Regions from separate parts of the Homo sapiens genome. Here region 1 is linked to region 2. Evidence: fine-mapped expression QTL. A gene starts in region 2. The other region holds a variant in brackets. All regions are shown on one strand. Distances are between the middles of the regions.

What was found. PIP is the estimated chance that this variant, and not a neighbour inherited with it, causes the effect.
Region 1: its variant is fine-mapped to the expression of MINAR1 in blood mononuclear cells (TOPMed, PIP 0.91).

What each region holds. Positions count from the first base shown.
Region 1 is chr15:79,357,036-79,359,943 of GRCh38, forward strand. It overlaps a transcript of TMED3 not described here. Among named protein-coding and RNA genes, the nearest start is that of TMED3, 47 kb to the left of the region's middle. The variant G/A (reference allele first, on the strand shown) is at 1,140.
Region 2 is chr15:79,431,196-79,434,103 of GRCh38, forward strand. MINAR1 (membrane integral NOTCH2 associated receptor 1) reads left to right here and starts at 1,141. Exons shown (of 4, transcript NM_015206.3): 1 at 1,141-1,345.

The sequences.
Region 1 (2,908 bases), 74 kb before region 2:
ACACATAAACACAGTTATGAACAAACATATAAACATATACAAATATGCATATGTTTATATGTGTATGAGCATTTGAAAAGATACACCAGCTTAATAGCTAATACTTCTGGAGAAGAGGATCCATTTTCTATGTTATACTCTTTCATATTTTAAAAAAACAAGCACACGGCTGGGCATGGTGGCTCGTGTGTATAATCCTGGCATTTTGGGAAACTGAGGTGGGAGGATCGCTTGATCCCAGGAATTCAAGACCAGCCTGGGCCACATAGTGAGACTCCCATTTCTACAGAAAAAAAAAAAATTGCCAAGCATGGCAGTGCATGCCTGTGGTCCTAGCTACTTGAGACGCTGAGGCAGTAGGATTGCTTAAGCCTGGGAGGTTGAGGCTGCAGTGAACTGTGATTGTGCCACTGCACTCCACCCTGCCTCAAAAAAAAAAAAAAAAAAAAAGCAAGCACATTATTACATTATTAATTTTAGAATTTAAACTTTTTTTTTTTTTAAAGCAGAACACGTCTTCTTGAACTAGTGTTATACCTCCTTCTCCTTGGGGTCCTATTGTCTGTGAATGTAGGCTCATCTCCTACTGGGAGGACTGCCGTGCTGGGGGCATTTGGAGTCTGGGCCACTGTAGAGGGAGCTGGCGGCCCTCCGCTCTGTGTATTGAGTCCACTCTGATTTCAGTTGATTGCAAAGGCAGTTGGAAGAACACTGGCTGGGAAATCAGGAAGCATGGCTGTACTTCTTAGTAGTTGCAAAGGACTGAAAAACTCACTTCCCTTTTCTGAGCCTCAGCTTTCCCATCTGGGAAGTTAATGCATTGGTTTATACCATTGTTTAAGTCCCTGCATGCCATCATACCCTAGGATTCTTTGGTCTTGTGAGTCTAAGTCTCCAATTGCTCTGTTTGAAAATTCTGTATCAACATCCTTCTTGGGAGATGTAACACACTATTAATGTACCCGTCTCGGCTTCTCTGTGAGCATACGTTCATTTATCAGATAAATCAGCAATCAGCAAGTTGACCCTAACGGGATGGGCCACTGAAGCATGCCTGTTTATGTCATGAGGGGAAGACCAGAGTATGGAGGTCAGTCCTACTCGTTGTCTTCCATCAGAGGCCCAAGGCACTGGATAGC[G/A]CAGTGAGCAGAGCCAGGCTGGGAGGAGGCTGTGTCCGAGGAATTTTCTGGGGGCCTGCTGTCTCACAACCCTGTGAACAGCCAGGAGAAGCAGACAGCTGCAAGGTCAGGACTTGAGGCCAGCACCTTCAAGTGTGACATCATTTTGCCACTTCAAAGCATAAAACTTTAAATGGCTCACTTTTTATTTCTGAGGTTTCAGACAACAACCCTACTGTGTGTGTCTAGGCAAATGGTTCAGGGATGCTGCTGACAGAAGAAAATTATGTTTGGCTGTGGATTGCAGTCTAGACTGAGCAGGTTGAGAGTGACTGGTACCTGGCTGGGATGGAAGCTGGGGATGGTGGGGGTGGAGTCTGTCTCTTGTGACAGCCATCTGTAGGATCCAACTTCAAGATTAGGAGGTTAACAGAAGCATCCCTCAGGCCCATCCCGAAGGAGATCACGGGTCCACCCTAGGACCTCTGACCACTGCCTTCCAGTTAACAGTATTTCCATCAGTGGATATTCAGCAAAGAAAAAATACTTTCTAAGACCCCAACATTTTCTTATTTGCCTGATGCTTAAAACGAAATTTCATAGAAAGCAGGCAGCTTCCATGCAGCTTTCCCTGGGGTGAAATGGCTGGGCCTATTTGCTCCTTGAAGGAAAAGTTTGCTGTGAACTTCTCAGATAAGTGGGTGGTGGATAGCAGGGACAGGAGAGCCGTGGCCTGGACAGGGTTCCTGATTCCTCCAGTCTGGATCAGTCTGAGGATAACTAAGAAAGGGAGTGGGGATGGGAAGGGGCTTTTTGCATGCCAAACCTGCATCTACTGGGAGTGCAGTGGCTGGAACAAGAGAGAGTGCAGCAGCACCTCATCTATCAGGAGTACAGCTCTGGCCATCCCAGGAGAGGCACTCAGACAAATTGGATTCTGCCCACGGGGGAAGACAAGGGAAGTGAGGAGGCTTATGTAGCTGGAAGGAACAAAATTGCAACTCAAAACAAAAGTGGACTGTGTGCTTATTTGCATACCAGAGGAGAGGTACAGTTTATTTGAAGGAGAAGGCTCAGTTTTTTTTTTTTTTTTTTTTGAGACGGAGTCTTGCTCTATTGCCCAGGCTGGAGTGCAGTGGCGCAATCTCAGCTCACTGCAACCTCCGCCTCCCAGGTTCAAGCCATTCTCCTGCCTCAGCCTCCCAAGTAGCTGGGATTACAGGCACCCACACCATGCCTGGCAAATTTTTGTATTTTTAGTAGAGACAGGGTTTCACCATTTTGACCAAGTCTCGAACTCCTGACCTCAAGTGATCTGCCCACCTCAGCCTCCCAAAGTGCTGGGATTACAGGCATGAGCCACTATACCCGGCCAATTTGAAGGGGAAGGCTCCTTATATAGAAAAATCAGCTGAGAGGTGAGTCTCCCTGTCCAGGGCATGACCTTTTTAAGGGTAAGGGGAAAAAAAGAGGAATAAACAGCTCCACAAATAAATGGTATAGAATTTGGGAGTTGTTTCTGACAGCTGAAGAGATTGAGAGATCAAGGTCTCAGAAAATGGAGAGAAAGCACGTATAGTATCAAAAAGTTAACAATCAGCTGATCACACCAAGCAAAAGGAATAAGTGAGTAAATACAAGTAAAGCCCTTATTATTATACATGCCTGGAATAGCGAAAGCCCTAGGTAGTAGCTATTATCTCCCTTCTTCTTCTGCCCGTGGGTCTACACAGAACAGGTCTTGCTCTTATGCTTCAAGAATGCCCTTGGGAGGAATGTCTGATAAATTT
Region 2 (2,908 bases):
GGGGTGGGGGTGTTGCTTTCCTTTTGAAATGAGATTCCATGGCCCCGAAACTATGATTCCCTCCCTCACCCTTTTTGTTTGTGTTGTTCTTGTCTTGGGGATGCAAAGTGCTGTTAACGTGAGCTTCCCCAGCCACAGGGACAGGATCTGTCTAGATGGGGCCACCAGAGGCAGCTGCTGTGTTTCGGCTCCACTCCAGCACACAGGGTGACACGGAAGGCCTCCATTTCTGATCCATGTATCCAGTAAGCTTTTGGAAACCCATCCCAGTTTCGTGGGGTTTGGGGGTGTGTGAATGAGTGAGTATGTGTGTGTGTGTGGGGGGGGAGAGAAACAGGGAGGGGTGGTCACGTGACAGTCTTTCCAATCTGGATCCCAATTAAGCCGACACCAGCCAAAAGAAGAAATCAGTGAGTGAAGTGACCACTTGGCCCTGGCCTTGCAAACCACTGCAGAGTCCGAAGCCCCGAGTGCTCCCTGGGAAGAGGAGAGCCGAGGACACTCTTCGCCCCTGCTTGCCACTGGGGGCCGCAGTCACCTTCAGCATAGGGGAGTGGGGAGACGCGAACCCCGCGGGTGGCTCCGGGTGGTGGGCTCCCTCCAGCGCGCAGCTTCCGCTCGCTTTCCCCTCGGCGCTGCAGCCGCGACCTGGGACCGAACGGACACCGCCTTCCCGGGGCTCCGGCGGCGCTCTGACTCCCACTTTCCTCCGCCGCAGCCTCTGGCAGGGCACCCCCTTGGCGCGACGCCGCGCCCCTCCCCGGGACCGCCCCCTCGGTCCCCCAGGGTGCGCTCAGTTGCTGCCCGTGCGCCCCGCCAGCTTGAGCGCCCCGGGCGGGCGGCGGTGGAGAAGCCCAGCCCAGCTCTCCCCAGCCGCGTTCCCGGCCCGCGCTGCTCCCAGCCTGCAAGCCCATGACGTGGCGACGCCGACCGAGACACAAAGACCGAGGCTGAGACCGCCAGGGGTTGAGGGTGAGGCCGCGTCCCGGGGCCGCTGGAGCGCGGGCGTCATGCGAGACTGTCCCGGCTGCGCGCCGCCCCAGAGGAGTCCGAGCGCCCCCTTCAGCCGCGGCGCGCTGGCCCTGGCCGGGACTGCAGCCAGGTGGGCGCCGCGCGTGTGAGCGCCGCGCGTGTGAGCGCAGACCTGGACTCGGGCGGCGGAGGCGAAAGTCGCTCCATCCGCGGGGTGCAACCCTGGGCGCGGAATCCGGGCTGCCGGGTGACAGTGACCAGCTGACTCTGGAGCCTACCGGAGGCGCGGCATCGGAGGCCGTGCGGACCACTGCCGAACAGCCGCTGGAGACCCGCAGAGAAGGGCGGGCCCTGCGCCCGGGGCGCCTCGGAGGTAAGTTCGGAGAGCCCGGGCCGGGCGGAGGGCGGGAGCGCACGAGTGTGTGTGTGTGTGTGTGTGTTCGCGGTGTGCCCGCGGCTCGGTGCACACGCGCGCGGGTTGTAAAGTCAGGAGCTGCGGGAGCGCCTCCCTGCCTCGGCTTGGCCCCGGAGCATTGCGGGCCGCGGAGGTGTGGGGGCCCTTGTCGCTGCGCTCAGGGCAGCGGCGGAAAAGGTGTGTGCGGATGCGGGGCGGGGCCGCACCTGGTGGACAGAGCAGGGATTCGGGAAGAGAAGCCACGGAAGATGATCATGCAGTTTGGGGCAAGTTTTCCTGGTTGAGCATCGCTTCAGGAAACGGTGTTTTGAGGGTTAAATATGTGAGCTATCTGTGCAAAAAGCCTGACACATCAGAGGCGCGAAGTAAGATGGAAAGCTGGACAAGCCCCAGGTGGACCGACCGGTGCATCCAATTCTTAAATTGAGATTTCCAGTCACGTTGATGTGGAATGGGATCGTTGTTCTTCCCGAGGGTTTGATAAGGATGCTCAACTTCACCTGTCAGAAAGCACGGGAGCTGGGCCTGGCCCGCGGGGAGCGTAAGCTCGCTCACACGCGGTCCAACTCAGGCAAATGCAGCATGCCCGACCTGCTCTGCCGCCATCCCTCCGAAAGCGATAATTTCCTTGGGCTACCGAATCCATCAGAGTAGTCATTTGTCCCCTCGCCGGCGGTGCGGGGAGCGTAACATTTGAGTAGCCTAACTCTCACAGCGCGCACTCCAGCATTGTTTTGCTGGAAGATTGTTACTGTGGTAAGCGGCTGGTAGCCTGTGTTAAGCAGCAGGGAAGATAAGGTTGTGTTCAGGTGCGCTTAATTCAGCGGGAATTAAGTTATGTTTGGTGAAGATCTAAGGAGAGGAAAAATCCAGAGTTTCTGCTATAAACAATGTACATCTATCTTAAAGGCTTCTCACCCATTTCTCTTGTGGATGGAGCCATGTGGTTGGGAGGTGGTAGAACCATGCCGCCATCCCTGAGGCTGTGGTTGGAGGCCTCATTGCTGGGCTCTGCAATTTTATGCTCTGTGATATTATGCATGGCATGAAGAGTTGCTAGGAGGAGTGTGGAAGCAGCTTATGTGGCCAGTTATGCATCCTTTATTCCAGCAAACGAGCTGCCACTGCTACCTCTCTCTGATGGAGAGGGACGGTAAATGGCCCTTCCTTGTCATTTCTCAGACACCAGCATTACTGGGCCCGCCCTGCAGGTGGAAGCTAGCTCACTGCTGTGGCCACAGGATGTCTTTTGAATTGACCCTCATTGAGAGCCCGGCGGCAATATTTTGGGTATTGTTGAAATAAGAGAAGTGGATTAGAGAGAGTAGGATGCCTGGAGTTGTACAATACCCTTTAATGGGTTTTCCTCTTGTGTATCAGAGGAGGGTAGAGCAGGAGACGGTGGTGAGTCTGCAGAGAGGGCAAACTTAGAGATTTTCTCAGGCTACTGGAGCCTGGAGGGAAAAACCTTAAATGTCTGATAAATAAAGTCTGATTTTTATTGTGTGTGTCTGAGAGACT